Linked DNA regions of Homo sapiens: region 1 is linked to region 2. Evidence: fine-mapped expression QTL. A gene starts in region 2. The other region holds a variant in brackets. All regions are shown on one strand. Distances are from middle to middle. Region 1 overlaps LOC100506207 (a long non-coding RNA gene). Region 2 holds the start of SLC35B3 (solute carrier family 35 member B3).

Evidence for each region. PIP is the estimated chance that this variant, and not a neighbour inherited with it, causes the effect.
Region 1: its variant is the best candidate, but not a certain one, in a credible set for the expression of SLC35B3 in lung (TOPMed, PIP 0.58).

The regions. Positions count from the first base shown.
Region 1 is chr6:8,566,505-8,576,275 of GRCh38, forward strand. The region is part of intron 3 of LOC100506207 (a long non-coding RNA gene); the gene reads left to right. Among named protein-coding and RNA genes, the nearest start is that of HULC, 81 kb to the right of the region's middle. RefSeq lists an enhancer at 5,625-5,794. The variant G/A (reference allele first, on the strand shown) is at 4,977.
Region 2 is chr6:8,430,406-8,440,176 of GRCh38, forward strand. It overlaps SLC35B3 (solute carrier family 35 member B3), which reads right to left and starts at 5,140. Exons shown (of 10, transcript NM_001370479.2): 1 at 4,938-5,140. It overlaps LOC100506207 (a long non-coding RNA gene), which reads left to right and starts at 5,218. Exons shown (of 5, transcript NR_038980.1): 1 at 5,218-5,773; 2 at 7,535-7,626. RefSeq lists enhancers at 2,148-2,317, 4,768-4,907, 4,880-5,421, 4,918-4,977, 5,178-5,347 and 2 more.

The DNA of each region.
Region 1 (9,771 bases), 140 kb after region 2:
AATGTCTAAATTTTTCTTTTTTTCCTTTTTTTTTTTTACTTCTCTTTCCCATGTTCTTTTTTTTTTTTTTATTATACTTTAAGTTTTAGGGTACATGTGCACATTGTGCAGGTTAGTTACATATGTATACATGTGCCATGCTGGTGCGCTGCACCCACTAACTCGTCGTCTAGCCTTAGGTATATCTCCCAATGCTATCCCTCCCCGCTCCCCCCACCCCACCACAGTCCCCAGAGTGTGATATTCCCCTTCATGTGTCCATGTGATCTCATTGTTCAATTCCCACCTATGAGTGAGAATATGCGGTGTTTGGTTTTTTGTTCTTGCGATAGTTTACTGAGAATGATGATTTCCAATTTCATCCATGTCCCTACAAAGGACATGAACTCATCATTTTTTATGGCTGCATAGTATTCCATGGTGTATATGTGCCACATTTTCTTAATCCAGTCTATCATTGTTGGACATTTGGGTTGGTTCCAAGTCTTTGCTATTGTGAATAATGCCACAATAAACATATGTGTGCATGTGTCTTTATAGCAGCATGATTTATAGTCATTTGGGTATATACCCAGTAATGGGATGGCTGGGTCAAATGGTATTTCTAGTTCTAGATCCCTGAGGAGTCGCCACACTGACTTCCACAATGGTTGAACTAGTTTACAGTCCCACCAACAGTGTAAAAGTGTTCCTATTTCTCCACATCCTCTCCAGCACCTGTTGTTTCCTGACTTTTTAATGATTGCCATTCTAACTGGTGTGAGATGATATCTCATAGTGGTTTTGATTTGCATTTCTCTGATGGCCAGTGATGATGAGCATTTTTTCATGTGTTTTTTGGCTGCATAAATGTCTTCTTTTGAGAAGTATCTGTTCATGTCCTTCGCCCACTTTTTGATGGGGTTGTTTGTTTTTTCTTGTAAATTTGTTTGAGTTCATTGTAGATTCTGGATATTAGCCCTTTGTCAGATGAGTAGGTTGCGAAAATTTTCTCCCATGTTGTAGGTTGCCTGTTCACTCTGATGGTAGTTTCTTTTGCTGTGCAGAAGCTCTTTAGTTTAATTAGATCCCATTTGTCAATTTTGGCTTTTGTTGCCATTGCTTTTGGTGTTTTGGACATGAAGTCCTTGCCCATGCCTATGTCCTGAATGGTAATGCCTAGGTTTTCTTCTAGGGTTTTTATGGTTTTAGGTCTAACGTTTAAATCTTTAATCCACCTTGAATTGATTTTTGTATAAGATGTAATGAAGGGATCCAGTTTCAGCTTTCTACATATGGCTAGCCAGTTTTCCCAGCACCATTTATTAAATAGGGAATCCTTTCCCCATTGCTTGTTTTTCTCAGGTTTGTCAAAGATCAGATAGTTGTAGGTATGCGGCGTTATTTCTGAGGGCTCTGTTCTGTTCCATTGATCTATATCTCTGTTTTGGTACCAGTACCATGCTGTTTTGGTTACTGTAGCCTTGTAGTATAGTTTGAAGTCAGGTAGTGTGATGCCTCCAGCTTTGTTCTTTTGGCTTAGGATTGACTTGGCGATGCGGGCTCTTTTTTGGTTCCATATGAACTTTAAAGTAGTTTTTTCCAATTCTGTGAAGAAAGTCATTGGTAGCTTGATGGGGATGGCATTGAATCTGTAAATTACCTTGGGCAGTATGGCCATTTTCACTGTAATTTATTTACATCCAATTTAGGGATTGATAGTAATACAGTAAAAATTTATTCTCACATTCACTCTACTATATTACTGATTATTCAAATAATTTCTAAGCTATGTCAATCATTGGCCTGGTGCAGGCTCTATAAAGATGACATAACATACATCTGTCTTTGAGGACCTTGTAGTCTTCCTGGTGAGACAGATTATCATGCATAAAACTTTCAATGATACTAGCTTTTTTTTTTTTTTTTTGAGACAAAATCTCACTCTTTCGCCCAGGCTGGAGTGCAGTGGCGTGATCTCGGCTCACTGCAACCTCTGCCTCCTGGGTTCAAGTGATTCTTGTGCCTCAGCCTCCTGAGTAGCTGGGATTACAGGCGTGTGCCACCACGCCTGGCTAATTTTTGTATTTTAGTTAGAGACGGGGTTTCACCATGTTGGCCAGGCAGGTCTCAAACTCCTGACCTCAGGTGATCCACCCAGCTCGGCCTCCCAAAGTGCTGAGATTACAGGCATGAACCACCACACCTGGCTGATACTAGCTTTTACAGAGTTACAAAGAAAATGGGATTGAGCACAAAGATAGGCTAACTATATGAGGAGTTCATGAAAGTCTCCTCAGAAGAGGTGACATTGGAACTGAGTCTTAAAAGATGAGTAGGCAGCTTCAGTTGATGAAGGTGAGAAAGAATATCCCAGGAGGGACAGCATGCTTCTTATTATGGCAAGTCTTTATTTATTTATTTTTTAAATTTAAAAAATATTTAAGTTTTATTTTAGGTTCAAGAGTACATGTGCAGATTCGTTATACAGGTAAATAGTGTGTCGTGGGGGTTTGGTGTACAGATTATTTTGTCACCCAGGTAATAAGCATAGTACCCAATAGGTAGCTTTTCGGTCCTCATTGTCCTTCCTCCCTCTACCCTCAAGTAGGCCCAGGTCTCTGTTGTTCCCTTCTTTGTGTCCATGTGTATTCAATGTTTAGCTACCACTTATAAGTTAGAACATGCGGTATTTGGCTTACTGTTCCTGTGTTCATTCGCTTAGAATAGTGGCCTCCATCTCCATTCATGTTGCAGCAAAGAACTTGATCTCATTCTTTTTCATAGCTGTGTAGTTTTCCATGGTGTACATGTACTACATTTGCTTTATCTGGCCTATCATTGGTGGGCATCTAGGTTAATTCCATATCTTTTTTTTTTTTTTTTTTTTTTGAGATGAAGTCTTGCTCTGTCATCAGGCTGGAGTGCAGTGGTGTGATCTCGGCTCACTGCAACCTCTGCCTTCTGTATTCAAGCAATTCTCCTGCCTCGGCCTCCTGAGTAGCTGGGACTATAGGCACACACCACTGCACTTGGCTAATTTTTGTATTTTTAGTAGCGACAGGGTTTCACCATGTTGGCCAGGATGGTCTCGATATATTGACCTCATGATCCGCCCCCGTCGGCCTCCCAAAGTGCTGGGATTTCAGGCCTGAGCCATTGCACCCGGCTGATTCCATATCTTTTATAGCAGATCTTGATGTGCTTAAAAATGATGAGGACTTTAGTATACTGGAATGAATTTAGAGGCATATTGGTGGCTTAATGGAAGTGGAGAGGAGTTTAGATAGAGTTACCAATGGGATAATAGGCCAGAAATAGATTGGAAGGGCCTTGAGAGCTAAAATAAGAAATTTGGGTCTAAATCTGAAAGGGATAGGAACCAAAAGGAATTTTAAAGCAAGTGGTTGACATGATCAAATTTAATAATTAGGGAAATAGCTAATGTCTTTCAATACCCTCTGACTTGGTCAGGGAGTTATGAGACAGGAAGCTATCTTAAAAAAACCCAGGCGAGATATTATAAAGTCCCAAAATATGACACAAAGGATGGGACAGAGGATTAGATTTAAGATATTTCTGCTACATATCCCAGAAAGAAATAGAATGTTTAGAATTTAAAGCATTTTAGGAGGGAGCATAAAGTGAGATAACATGTGAATTTCACACTGAGATTAAAAATTTACAACTGAACTTTAGATCTTACCAAGGGAACATATTTTAAATAGCCTTGAATTTTGGTCTGCTAAGTTATGTTTAAATGTTAGTAATGTTCAAGCAAGAAGAGTCTTTTCCTTCCAAAAAGAGTGCTAATGTACACTTTCACACCTCCTTAAATATCTACAGCATGAAACACCCTACGCAGACATATCTGGATTTCCTGGAGCTATCAGTGCCTTTTGTGTTGTGAGACAAAGGCAATCCAATAAAGACATGTCTGTTCCCCAAGTGCTCACCAAAGTCACGGCTCAGAGAGTGCGCATTACAGTTATGTCTTTTCTGGGTTTTATATTTTAAAGAATATGATAATAAAAAGGAAAAACAAGCTTCCTGGTAAACTGTATTTATAGCCTCATAGACTGTAAAGGTTTCAAAGTTTAAAGACACTTAGAGCAAATGTCTTCCTTTTTCAGCATTAGCCTTTTTCTCCAGCACCAAAAGTGTGGAAGGCAAAAGCCTGCGAAAGAGAGGAAGTAGTGTAAGACAGTGTGGGAGGTGTTCTAAGTCTGGGCTCATGATCCTCTAAAATACATGGGTCTTCAAGCCTGCAGACAAGCTACAGAAGCCCTTCCAGCACCGTGAAATTGTGGAGACAACTGTGGCAGATGCATGGATGGCCTTTTTTTTTTTTCTGGGGAAATACTTCATAGTTTTCATTAGAATCTACAGCCTTAAACCTTTGACTATATAATTGGACACGTACAACAAATGGCTATCATATAGATGAGTATATTATCAGAGCAAAAATAATGATTCAGATAAGTTCTTGCCACTTCAGAAGATACAATTAATTTGTCTCAATGGATATGAGAGTGATCTACTTAGTTATGGATATTTGCAAAGTTTGTTTAAATAGCTCCACAACTTTGGACATGCTTACCTCTCCCAGCCTTTTTTTTCCCCCATTACTATCTCCTAGGTTTGCTGTGACGTAATTTATGTAGACCAGTTTGCACAATCCTTGGAAAATGTCTTAATTATATATTTATGACAAATTTGGATATGACATTTGTTATACATCTGTATGCAGGGCAGCTTTAAATATAAAACTTAAGCTTAGTGAATTGTTAAAAATTAGTCATATTTCACTTATGATCATCTCCTCTTGGAAGCTGAAGAAAGAAGATCAAGTAATAAGGATGTTTATATTTTCTAAGTACTATTTTTAAGAAGTTAAATGTTAGTTTCTGGTGTCATGAATGAAGAATTGGAGCAAATGAGAAATTCCAGTATATGGCTTGCTTCGGAGTGAATGGCCAAAGTATTGTGATAAAGTC[G/A]CTAACCTTTGGGAGGATGTACAGCCGATAAGAGTCAGGCCCCATTTCCAATGAGCAGGCCCCATTCCTGATGACAAGAGTTTTAAGAACATACAGTAAAAAGATTGAACTCTGATCAAAGGCCACAGCTGCTACGCTCCGCATGCTGCTTGCTGGGTATGGAGTCAGCCCTGGAGCTCTAACCTGATTCTTCAGCTTTGGCAACACAAGCATTTGAAATGTGGGAGAAGGTGGGGCCTAGCATCATCAAGTCATAGTCTGAGAGGTCTTGGTCACTACCGTGACCTCCTTCACCAGCTCACCAGTCTGAGGGAGAAGCCCAGGCTGCCACAAGGCCTTGTCTTACAGGCAAATAATTAATTAAGATGGAAACTTATATGTCTACTGACCTCCAGTGATTAGGCCTCTGGTTCAGGAGCTGAGTTTTGAGGACTTACTTAAATTAGGAAGACTATGACAGTTGTCCTTCCTTTCTCCCAACCTCCGTCTTCCCCCCATTGTTCCTCTGGGTAGCTTAGAGGTCACCTGTGGAACATTTAATGGCCCTTTTATTTGATATTTTGGTACTTATATATGTCTATCTTCTCAGATAAGCTTTTCCTCTGACAGAAAAGATTTTAAAGACATTTTAGTAAAACAGAATAAAACAACCCAGGCATGAGACAAACTGATTATTAGTTGGAGATTTGGTTGGAAGATATTAGCTAGCCCTGAAGCAAAAACACAGTTTTCTTCATGCTTTTCTATAACAGTATTCATAAAGTTACATGTAAGTTGGACAGCTTATGGTTGAGCAGTGACTAAGAAGAGAAATTGGGCTGCAACAGAGAGCACAGGCATTGCTGCCAGCCAGACAGGGCTTGAGACCAAGCTACCGATTCTTAGCGATATAATGGTGAGCAATTTGCTTCACCTCTTGGAAATGTCCTCTTCGGGGAAATGGAGGTGATAATGCCTCAGCGGGTAGTTTTAAGAATTAAAGGTAAAATGTGCAAAGTGCCTGGCACCAGTGACTACCGAGTAAATTAAAAATATTTTATATTTCTTAGTGTTCATTTCTTGCTCTGCCTTAAAAAAACTGCACATCAAATACTTTATTCTTCTGCATGCAATGCATTTTTGTAAATCATCTATTGCACATAGTGTTAGGTGCTTGGAAACAAAGAGGAGTAATGCAGATCTTTGATATTCAAAGAAGTACTAGCTTAGCTGTGTTTGGGGTGCTTGTGTACATGTCCAAAGAGTGAAGCATAATAATTCCTTGTCTTTTTGAAAATTTTATCTAAACAAAATGAAATCAATGAATTAATATTTTTGGAGTGCGTAGGTGACATAGACGTTCATAGATGACTTTTACGTAGGATTAGAGGGTATAGAATTCTAAGCGGCTGAATCCTGAATTCTGACATACAACACTAGGGACTTATGGAAGCTAATCACATAAACATAGCTCCTTTATTTTTCCAATAATAGTTTAAAATTTTTCACGTTGGATTTTATCTGAAGTCAATCTGACTTGACTTCCAGGCCTTCCTCTCTTTTTTTTTTCTCCAAAACACCTGATGACTGAGTCCATCAAGTTCCCAAAATAGATTTACACATTTTTAAAAACAGATAATCAAGTTTTACTTTCATCTGTGGGTTTTTTTTTTTTTTCTCAAAGTCCAGGAAACTTTGTAACACCTGCTTTGCAAAATAAGCAAGTAATCATCTATTTTGGGGACGGAAAATAGAGGAGGTGAGAAATGAGTTAACTGGCTTCAACTCTTGTTATTTGGGCATGGAAATTATTTGTTCAGTGATTTTTGCCACAGCCATAGAACAACTTTTGCATTGCTTTGGTTTCTCCATATGCTTTGGAGAGACAGGAAAGAGAATATTGCACTAAAAATCTTGTTTCAGTTCAAGGTAATTATGCATATATTTAGGCTGAATAGGGAAGAGGCATTACTGAAATAAAAGTGTTTTTAATACAATTTGGAAGACATAAATTAACACATTGAGAGGAAAATGAATCAATAATTTTATTTTAGAACTGAAGGGGATTTTAGCGATCATCTTGTTTAACCGCCATGTTTACAGATGAATGAACTGTTATGTGTTTTGCCCACAGTAGGTCACACAAACAAAGGTGTCCTGACTTCTAGAATAGGCCTTTGTTCCTCTCTCACTGTAAATACATGACTATCCTGCAGAATGGCCTAGTAGATATTGTCATGTTGCTGTTCCTGGTTGGGAGGACTGGGTGCACGTACAAATAAAGTTTACATAATACCTGATACAGAAATCTTGGTGCCCTAAAGTAACTATTTAATGATGATGCCTTTGCTCTATTCAGACCAGCAAAATGAGCACACATTTCTGGCTCCATTTAATAAATTGCCTCCTTGAGGGCACTAAATCCTGCTCTTCAGGAAAAGCTCATTCACCTCACATGGGTAAACAGTTTGCTTCTTCATGAATTCTGCTGTTTACTCACAACAGTGGAAAGCCTGTTTTGTGTTATTGCCGTTATCACAAATCTGGAGACATCACTGCAGATTGGAATGAGGTGGCGGGAGACCGTTGCCTAAGTGGGTATTGTTCAGCACAGCTTAATAGAAAAGGTTGACCAAACATGTTAGAGTTACCATCGAATAAGTTTATTGGGGGAACCAGCCCCCAGTATTTCAACATAGGTTCTTTTCTATTTTCCCTAAGTGTCGGCCGGTCTGAGAAATAAACAGAAAGAGTACAAAAGAGAGAAATTTTACAGCTGGGTCTCCGGGGGTGACATCACATGTTGGCAGGTTCCGTGATGCCCACCTGAGCCGCAAAACCAGCAAGTTTTATTAGGGGTTTCAAAAGGGGAGGGGGTATGAATAGGGAGTGGGTCACAGAGATCACATGCTTCAAATGGAACTTATCTTTAGTAATGGAGAGCTTTTCAAATCTAGTTAATTTTGCCTTTCAAAGTCACTGTGAATGGGTGAAAAGTAAAATAGCTCATCCGTAGATCGTAAGTTAATATTGCTGAATTTTAAAAAATTTGATGAGTCAGAAAAATTTGCATTGGTATCATCTACATTCACTTTCTACCTTTAACTTCATTACTTTCCTTCACACATTGACCTGTGATTCCCCCAGAGGCAAAGTTTCAAGGTCAATTATGTGAAAGTAGTTTTAAAAGTGGCCAGTCCAGACATGGATTTGTGAAAAATAAAAATGGAGTTCAAGCAGTCAGAATTCTGTAGTATTCTTCACTCTTTTCTTTATTTTTCAAATAAAACTTTCTAAATATTGTAGCTCAAGATAGATTAATGATTCCAGTTTTTAAGTATATTTAAAGCTCAAGTTGTTGGATTTTTTAAAATTTTGACTCCTCCCTTTCTCTTTCTCTTTCTCCCTCCCTCCCTCCCTCCTTCCTTCCTTCCGTCTTCCTTCCTTCTTTCCTTCCCTCCTTCCTTTTTCCCTTCCTTCGTTCCTTTTTTCCTTTTTTCCTTCCTTCCTTCCTTCCCTTTCTCTTCCTTTCATTCTTTCTCTCTTTCTTTCTTCACAATATAGGTTAAAAAGGAATAGTAACAGATGATCATTTATACTCCTGTTGCTTCACTCTGAAGAATTCTTTGTTCTCCTTATCCATGCCTTAGCCAAAAGCTACAAATGAAAGAAAATTTCAACCCCATGTAAATTTTTTGGAACATCGTACCATATTGGTGGACGTAATACAGTTTCGAAGCATTAGGTCCTTGTTAAGAACAATTCATTAATATTTTTCTATTGGATCAGACTTACAGATAAGGTCTGCTTCTAATGATGTCATCAATAAGCGTTTCACATGGGAAATAATGGGAAATACATTGTGTTGTTGATTATATATATTCAGGGAGTTTTAGGTGAATTTAATAGTGAATTATTAGTGGAGCTGCCATTAACTATTTTAAAATATGTATGTATTCATGCAATTCTTTAATCCTTAAGGAGCATAACAGGACTGAATTATCCTTCTGTCCTAGTCTGTTTGGGCTGCTATAACAAAATACCATAGACTGGGTAGCTTATAAACAACAGGAGTCTGGGAAGTCCAAGATCAAGGCCAGCAGATTTGGTGTTTGATGAGGGCCTAGCTCACAGATGACATCTTCTACTGTGTCCACACATGGTAGAAGAAACAAGCTAGCTCTCCGTTTTTGTTTTTTTTCAATAAAGGCACTAATTTCATTCTAAAGACAGATCCCTTATTGCCTAGTCACCTCCCAAAGGCCCCACCTCCTAATACCATCACTTTGGGATTAGGATTTCAACATAGGAATTTTGGAAGGACACACACATTCAGACTATATACCACCTTCTTTTTAAATTTTTTATTATTTTACAGACAGGGTCTTGTTTTGTCACCCAGGCTGTTGTGCAGTGGCACAAACATAGTTCACTGCAGTCTTAAACTCCTGGGCTCAATACATCCTCCTGCCTCATTCTTCTGAGTAGCTGGGACTATAGGCACATGTTCCCATGCCTGGCTAATTTTTAAAGAAACATTTCTGCAGAGACAGGGTCTTGCTATGTTGCTCAGGCTGGTTTTGGATTCCTGATTTCAAGTGATCCTCCTGCCTTAGACTCCCAAAGCATTGGTGTTACAGTTGTGAGCCACTGCACCCAGCCCATAGCACTTTCTAATATTACTCTTCAGAATTTTAGAATCTTACTTATGACTGGCCTCGTCCTTGCCTTTTCAGATAGAAGAGTTATATTTTCAAAAACAACCCCAGCACACTGCAGTCTCACTATTACATAAGTAAATTCTTTGGTGTTTCCC
Region 2 (9,771 bases):
CAAAAGCTAGTTATTTCATCAAAGAACTAAACATGTCTTTGTGTCTATATATAGTTGATGCATAACATTCTCAACATTAAAGTCAATCTTCACTTGTAGAGGAGTAAAAAATAAGTAATTCTCCTTTAAATACTAAGACAATTCTAAGATATATTTGCTAATGACATTTAAAAAATAAACTAAAAAAATGAAGGCCAGGTGTGGTGGCTCATGCCTGTAATCCCAACATTTTGGGAGGCTGAAGCAGAGAGGTTGCTTGAGACCAGGAGTTCAAGACCAGCCTGGGCAACATAGCAAGACCCTCTCTCTACCAAATAAAATAAAATAAAATAAAATAAAAAAATTAGCTGGACATGGTGGTGCATGCCTGTAGTCCTAGCTACTTGGGAGGCTGAGGCAGGATGATCACTTGAGTCCAGGAGTTTGAGGCTGCAGTAATCTATGATTGCACCCCTGCACTCCAGCCTGGGCGACAGAGCCAGACCCTGTCTCTAGAAAATAAATGAAAAAAACAAAACAAAGAAACCCCAAACCTAAGGTCCTTAAAAAGCTAGATTTATCAGAGACTACAGAAAGCACAATATGCTTCAGCAGTAGCATCTCTTAGGTTAAAAAATGTTTTCTTCCTCTGGAACAAATCATTTTAATTTACATTCTTCTGGGATGTAAAAGGCTGGAGAAAACATGTCATTTTTTGTCAGTCTAAAAAAAATTATGAAGCCATCAATTTCTCTTTGGATTTATATAAACTGAAAAAATGAACTCCATGTAAAGACTGAGGAAAGACTGAAGAATTATGACAAAGTATAGAATAAACCTATGTAAAAGAAAAAGTTATTTTCTTAGAAACGACTCATCTGTTTTTAATTCCAGTGGGAACAAAAATTTAAACTCTGCGGCACGAAGAGAAATAAGAATAATTTTGACAGTGAGTTTTCCTTTGGTAATGTTTTTTTAAACTGTTACAAGATGGCTTAAAATGGCCAAAATTAGAGTCGCCTCTTCATGATCACTTCTAGTTTGCTAATTTACAGAGGTTAACCAGGTCATCCTTAGGAATTAAAGGAGGGGTCAAGGATCTGAATACCACTTGTAACTAAAAATATGCAGCCACCACAACATTTTATAGGGCACCTGCCTTATTTCTAAATAGAAAAGTTGTTTCATGAAGTTTACTGTGTTCCTCTTGTTTATTCTTCACTTTCCTTTGTTCTTGCTTCCCACATTATGTTTCAATCACTGTCATTTGTAAGACTTTTTATGTAATCTTGCAGGGTATCTTTGAGATGTGACTTTCTTTTAAAACCATGCTTTAAATTATCTCTCCTAAATATTTGGTCAAACCTGTGCTTGAATGTAGAAGAGACGAAAACCTTAACAATTTACTCTTTTCTATGTGTGAGCATGGATATAGTGCACCATTCAAATAAACCCGGCCTTACATAGGTTTCTAAGTTTGCTCTCCCTCCACTCTCAATAAAGCCCTAAACCACCCATGTTTCATTCCTGAAATACACCAGGGACTTTAAAACACCGCTGCCTTCTGTTCATGATGTCCTTTCAGCCTGAGGTCTTCTTTCTCAAGGTCAGGTTTGGAAGTTCAGCTTTAATATCCCCTCCTTTGTGACACCATCACTAATCCCCCCAGTTATTAGAAAAGAGAACTTGAAAGGCAAGATTCAAATCTTATTTGTCTCTGTGTCCTTGGTACCTGGCATATACTCTGACCTGATATTCAGATGAACCAAATAAACTGATCCTTCCTCTTGATACCCTCAAACTTCAGCTTGCAATCACTCACCTTCTGCTTGGATACGATTTTTGAAATGGATGGTGGTACTGGCAAACTTTATGAGCAAAACTGAAAATCTTATAGAAAAAGAGTGGGGAAAATTTACAAATAATGCTTACATATTTACACATACATACAGAATAAATAAAACTTCTAGAAAATATCTTTCTTTCCTGCTTTTATTGGCATCAAAACATTTCTCCAGAAGGTCACGCTTTCCCAAAGTCACCTTCTTCTGAGATGTTTGTAATTTAGTAAACTGCCAAGCATATTGTAATGACTCAATACAATTATAGGTAATAGTATAAGAAAGCAGTATAGCATAATGCTTTCCCCATGCTTTGGAATTTTGACAGATATGAGTTCAAGATCTGGCTTTACTACTTATTAGCTGAGGAGCCTTGGGCAAATCGTTTAACTTTTCTGAGCTTTAGGTTCTGCACCTTCAAAAGTGGGAGGAGTTAAAAATGTGCCTATCACAGGATTTTGGTTAGGACTATATGAAATAAATGTAAAATTGCCTGGCATATGACAGTCCATAAGTGTGTTAGCTGTCATCCTTCAACTTTTTAGAAATATTGCTAGGGTGATATGGTGTGCTCAAGCTGACTCACCCCTTTGATGTGCAGCTGGAAATACAGACCTGAATTTCCAACGCTGCCTTCTCTCCTGAGATCCAGAGCTCTACGTCTAAATGCTTCTTTGATACCTCTACTCATAAGCTCTGCTGGCACTTCATATTTAAAATGGCCAAAGCTGATTATTTTCCCCTCAAAACAAATCTACTGTTTGTTCCTATATTCCCAATCTCACTTAACAGTACCTAGTATGAAACACAAGCTAAAAATCTGGGAGTCATCTTAAGAATCTTTCCTTTTCCTCACATTCTATATTTTGCCAAGATTCCTGTTAACTCTACCTCTATAACTATATCTAATATCTGTTTCGGACCCTACTCCATCAGGCAGCCATTTTCTCTTGCCTAGATTACGAGACTGTTTATAATCAATTCTTCCCTTTCTGACCCATCTGTCACATGGCTCAACGTGAAGTCTGATCATGCTGCATCCATGAATAAGGCCTCGAAGTTAAAAACGAGTTGATGTCCTGGACTCAATCATATTATACATATTTTTCAAATTCCTAAATGATAATGGTATAGCTTTTTCGTTTTTATACTTGTTTCTCCTAAAAGCCTATGAAATCCTTAAGGCAAGAGATATCTTCCTATGATGTTCTGGCACATAACAAAAATGTAAGATTAAATGAAGGACTCTACCACAGTTTAGCAAGCACCATTTATTTAATCAACGTTATTCAGCTCCTTTCCAACACTTTACCACTTCTAATACACTTCTTGGCAACTTTATGTGCTGCAGATCTAGGCCATATGTGCAGAATGAAATCTCTCTAGCACTGTCTTTTCTACATGTATGCCAAAATACCGACATTGCTACTGAAACTCCCCACAAAACATTTGAAATGAACATGAAAATAAATTTGTTTCCTCTGCCTGAGGCATCAGTCTCATAAAACTTGCCCACCAAAGCCTTGCATTTAGAATGCTGTTTTATTAATAAGAACATCACTGGTGAGAAAGTGTGACTGATAAAGACCTCTGATACCTAATAACTGTGATCATTGGGGAATGTCTGCCATATCCCTTCCACTTCAAACATTAATGACTGATACTAACCATCATCTAAAAAAAAAAATGGGCCAAACTCCTTGTGATGCAAGGAGCAAAAATGAAGCATGGAATTAAAATTAGTTTTCAGACTAAATGATCAACATTGTGCTTTGCTTTTGAAGCTCACAGTAATCAGTGAAACTAAAATATATATATATATATTTTAAAAATCACAGGTGTGTATAATTGCCTGAGGCCTCTTCCTAAATTCAACACAGATATTCAACTTCAACTGCTAAAATGGAATAAAAAGGTAGCATTTCCGGCATACAATGTATATTTAAAAATTAAAATTAGTGATAATGTTGAGTTACAATGACCTATTGAAGTCACAATTATTTCAGTTTATTTTTGAGTTTTCCGACCTGAAGGACAAAAGTCCCACACCAAAAAAAGGTAGAATATGAAAAAAAAGTCATTACGGTGTCATTAACCTGAAAAAACGTGATTTTAACTATACTTTGCCACACTCAACGTTACAAATAAAAGAATCTTACCATGCCATTATGCCTTGATTAACTGCGCTCCGGAATCAATCATGGCCTATGGTGTACGATTATAAAACAGAAAAAACAAAGTTCCATCTCATTTCTTTGTACACACATCATTACACAAAGGTGGAGAAACCCTGTGCTAATGTTTGAAGACTATTCTTTTTTTTTTCCAAGAGAAAAAGTTAACACTAGGACTTTATATATTAAGTAATTAAGTAAAAATAACGCTGTCTAAATTATTTTGAAATGCTGCCTCTCTTCCAAGTTCCAAACTATCTCAATTCACTTAGAAAAACGTTTAATCAAAAAACAATTCTAGGCTTCTGATATCCTAATGTAGAAAAAATGCAGATACTCAACACTTAAGATTTTGTTAGCGCACCAAATCATTCCATCTTTTACTTTCAATATTCCTTAAATAATAAAAAGACGGGAGAGATAATTCAGTTGCAAAGACTGGAGGAAACTTGCAGAACTTCTAGTGGAAGTTTATGCCATAAACTTAATAGCCCAGCCAGAACAATCACATTCTACTGCAAGCCAAATGGAGAAAAGAGTACCTTGGAGTGCCCCTATTTAATAAACACGGAACGAGGAAACAGTTAACTGTAAATACAGTCTAGAGGTATCCAGGTGACTGACAGTTCTCCAGAGACCCCGAGAACAGCGTAAAAGACCCCTTGAGGTCACCTCACCCCTGCGAGTCCACGGATTGGGACCTGAGGGAGTTCTCGCCAGCCCGAGGGCGAAAAACGGGCGAGGAGGAACAGATGCTCCTCCCTGGAAACCGCCCGGCCGGTTTCCGCTCTTTCAAAAAAGGGAATCACCCGTTTCTTCCATCCCGACCTCATCCATTCCTCGAACGCTCCTTCTGGATGAGGAAGATGGGCAGTGTCAAGGTTTTCTGGAGGAGAGGAGATCTGGGTCCCAAACACAGGAAAGGCCCCGAAGGCACGCGTACCCCAAGGCCGGTATGTCACCCGGAAGGGTGACGGCAGCCTGCGTGGCGTCTGAGCTAGACGGAGCATCTCCCCCTCCCCTGGTCCGTCGCCATCACCTCCTCTTCCTCCTCCTCCTCGCCCACTCCTGCACTTTCCACCGCGGCGGTCGCCTCCCCGGAAAGCACTCTCAACTCCGGCGCCCGCAGGCCACTTCCGCCTATGTGTCCCTGCGCGCGTGCGCAGACGCGTGGCCCCGCCTCCCGACAGGCCTGTGTGGCCGGTGGCGGGCGGGCCGTTACCTCCCGCGCATGCTCTATGGGGTAGAGACGCTAGGCCGGCACTGCCTAGGTGGGCCGGGCGGTGCGAGGGTCGCCTTTCAGCCTTTACCTCTACCCACTGAAATGGAGTAGGTCGGTGAGCGCCGATCTGCTGGAGAATCTCATTATCCCATCGGCGCTCTGCCTGCTCCTGGCCTCCAAGCCTCTGAAGCCCCTCGGGTTTCAGCTGCCGGCTACCCTCGAGCCCGTGGTGCCCACGAGAGAGGCGACTTTACGTCAGCGGCCCTGGGCTGAGATTTGAGAACGCGACCAAGTGGAGAATGTTGGAGCCAGATTTTAAAATCCTTGTCTTCCTTCTGCGTGCTACTTGATCTAAATGAGATACGGCAAAGTCACAGAACCTGTTTTTATGTTTTTGCCTGATTCATACGGGCTTCTCCGGTGAAGATGGGCCTGAAGTAACGCTTGGGTTGCTTCTGACGTTATAACTCATCCTGTAGCTGCAGCAACCGTGGTCCTTGCAACCTCATAAAAATGTTGCCAGCATTGTTTCGATAGTGCTGCTTAATTCTTGGAAGGTAAATCTCAAAGCTTGAGGACCAGCCATCAAAACTTTTGTAAAAGGTTTTCCCCGCGTTTAGGGCCTCATCCATCACCACTGAGATGTAATAACGTAAAAACCAAGACGGTTTGGGGATGAGCTGTTTTCAGAGAATAATTAAGGAAAATATTACTGTAACGAAGATGGACAATTTTTGAAAGCATGCCTTGAATACCAGAAAGGGATGAATTGGATTAATATGTATGTTAGAATCCAGTCAGTTATGGACAACTTTTAAAATTTTACAGGCACTCTTCAGAAAGGGTAGCATTTGTGTCTTGTATTGGGATCGAGGGTTTGTAAGAAAGCAAGGCACCTACTTTGGTGGTGAGAAAAAAAGGTCTGGGTAGACATTTTCGTTTAATACTTGCCAACGTTGTTAGGCTGGTGTTAGCAACACTTAGGAATGTTGGAATTAAGGCTTAGAGAACTTAAATTTCCTAAAGAGATAGTAAATGACAAAACCTTTCAGTGATGCCATATCGTCACTGTATAATGTGAATTTAGTACTACTGTTAGCCATTTATATGGTGGTTATTTATCAAGTATTTATTAAATGGGCATATGTATAGCTCATATCGTAAACTATGCGTATGAGCTCCCTGTCCTGAAGAAATTAGGGGTTTCCATGAGAAAGTAAATGGCAGTATAAAACAACTTAAGGTACAAGAGGTGTTACAAGGTACCATCTGCTCATGCCTGGACAATTGCAGTAGCCGTGAGCATAGCTTTCTGCATTCCCTTTATTTCTCTACATAGTTGCATTCAGCAGCTGGAGTGATCCCATTAGAACCTGAATATGCCACTCCTCTGTGCAGAACCTTTTAGCGGTTTACCATTTTACTCAGATTAAAGTTCAAAATTCTTACCCTGACTTTTAAGACTGAACTTATTCTTGATGGATCACATCCAAGCTACACTTCAGAGCTTTTCTAATTGCCCCCAAGCACAGCAAGCATCAGTGCTTTGTAGCTGTTGTTCCTTCTGCATGGAACACTGCCCTCTCAGATGTCCACAGAGCTTGCTTCCTCATTTTTTTCCAGTCACTGCTCAAATGTCACCTGGCTCTTCTCTGACTACCATGTCAGTGAAATATTTTTACATGTCAAATGTGAAATGTAGGAGAGACTATCTGGAGTAGTACTTATTATAGAGTAGGTGTTTAATAAATATCGACTCTCTTACAATACTTCCCATTTACTCCTGTGATAACCACGTGGTAAACAAAATTAAAGACTTGCAGCTATGAATTGTTTTTTATTGACTGATTGACTGATTGAGGCAGAGGCTCACTCTGTCGCTCAGGCTGGAGTGCAGTGGCACATCTCAGCTCACTGCAACCTCTGCCTCCTGGGTTCAAGCCATTCTCCTGTCTCAGCCTCCCGAGTAGCTGGGATTATAGGCGCCTGTCACCATGCCCGGCTAATTTTTGTATTTTTAGTAGAGATGGGGTTTCACCTTATTGACCAGGCTGGTCTCGAACTCCTGACCCCAAGTGATCCACCCACCTCAGCCTCCCAAAGTGCTAGGATTATAAGCGTGAGCCACTGCGCCTGGTCCTATGAATTGGTTTTAAATTTTTAAGAAATTAATAATTCTGTAGTATCAGAAACCTTTGGTGTCTTGATTCACATCTTCTGAGCATCACCTCTCATTTCTGACTTGGTTGTGGGGGGCAGTTTCATGCAATCTTACACATTCTTCTCCCTGACAGCTTCTCCTCTCCCACATTTACCAGGCCTCTTTGCTTTCTTCCCTGAGGTTCTTCGGACTTCACACATTCCAGCAGTAGCTCTCTCAGCTCCTGTCCTGCACAGCTTTGAAGTGCTGGTAAGTCAACACATCTGGGGCCCTTCAACCAAGGGGTGACAGTCACTGATGGATAAATGCTCTTGCTTCTTACACTTGAGCAAGATAGTTTTGTAGGCCATTCTGTGTGTTTTTCAAAAAGTCCCAGTGAAATTGGGTTCTGGTTTCTCACAACAGCAACTTCAATAACACATTCTTGTATTATGTCTATATTCTCCCTTCCATTCTCTCATTGTTTCTCACTAGGATCACATCCCAAATTACCTGTCCCCACATAAGTAGTTGTCTCAGGTTTTGAGGGAAACCAAGCTAAGAAATTTGATGTAAGAAGAAAGTCTAGAATGCAGCTCCTCAGAACTCTGGAAGTGGGTTACTTTGCAGTCAGATGACAACAAGGACTTTCTTAGTGATATTAAGGGGAGGACATGTGCATGGCCCAACAATTAAGGCTCTTTCTTACTAAAGCCGATATGACTACTGCCTCTTTGGATGTCCAGCCCATCAGCAGCAAAGATTGATGGTAAATTCCATAAGGAGAGCAATTACACAAAAGTCCTTCCTTCCTGGAGAGAGCCGTGGTTTGTACTTACGGAACTGACACTTCCCTTGATATGACTGGTCTTGTTCATGGTGCCTCTGCCAGTACCATTATATAACAGAGTTACAAACACATGATTGATTGACTTCCTTCCTTCCTTCCTTCCTTCCTTTCTTTCTTTCTTTTTTCTTTCTTTCTTTCTTTCTTTCTTTCTTTCTTTCTTTCTTTCTTTCTTTCCTTCTTTTTTTCTTTCTTTTTCTTTCTTCCTTCCTTCCTTTTTCTTTTTCTTTCTTTCTCTTTCTCTTCCTTCCTTCCTTTTTCTTTTTCTTTCTTTCTCTTCCTTCCTTTTTCTTTCTTTCTTTCTCTCTTTCCTTTCTCTCTCTCTTTTCCTTCTTTCTTTTCTTTTTTCTTCCTTCCTTTCTTTTTTCTTTCTTTCCCTTCCTTCCCTCCATCTCCTCCCTCCCTCCCTCCCTTCCTTCCTTCCTCTTTCTTTCTCTCTTTCCCTCCCTCCCTCCCTCCCTTCCTTCCTTCCTTTCTTCCTTCTTTGACACAGAGTCTCACTCTGTTGCCCAGGCTGGAATGCAGTGGCACAACCTCTGCCTCCCAGGTTCAAGCCATTCTCCTGCCTCAGCCTCCCCAGTAGCTGGGATTACAGGTGCCTGCCACTACACCTGGCTAATTTTTTTGTATTTTTGGTAGAGACACGGTTTCACCATGTTGGCCAGGCTGGTTGTGAACTCCTGACCTCAAGTGATCTGCCCACCTCAGCCTCCTAAAGTGGTGCAATTACAAGCGTGAGCCACCACACCCAGCCCAAACACATGATTTTCTGATGTATTGCCTCCAACTAAAGGACACACTTTATGGTAAAAGAGGTGTGACAATGACACACGACCATGGAATTCCACTGGTCCTACCATATATTGTATCAACTGGAGGAAATTGGCCTGATAGAACACTGACATTGTTTTGTGAACATCAGCAAGTATCCTTTTCAGGAACAGTGCTCAGATAGGGTTGAGATGCCGTCACTCCTGACACACACACACACACACACACACACACACACACACACACACACCTGGCCCTTGGGAAGTTTGGTGGCATTAACACCCCCAGGCAATGATCCACCAATGGGGAATGGGCACCTATGGATAAATGCCTTCCATTTCCTAGGAGCAATTTTTGGGAGGTGTTTTTATGTATTTTAGGATGTCCTAGATAATCAAGTCATGTGACTTGGGGGAGCGAGAAAGAGAAACCAGCAGTGGAGACTTAGAAGAAGCAGCTGTTGACATAGGATGGGTCCAGGAATGTACAGTCTTCTAAAAGCCAGGTGAAGACAATGTTTAAAGGAGGAAGGAGTGATCAACAATGTCAGTTCGTGTCAATTGGTGTTACTTAGTCATGTGTCTGTGAAGAATCATCTTGCATAGTTAAGTCTCAGGTTCTAGTGTCAGATTAAATTTAAATCCTTGCACCACCCCTTGCTCTTTGAGTGTCTTTGTGCAAATTGCTTAAATTCTCTAAGTCTCAATCTCCCCATCTGTGAAATGGGAATGACAGTAGTACCTATGTGGTAAATTGTAGTGATGAGTAAGTGAAAGATGTTTAAAGATGGTTAAATG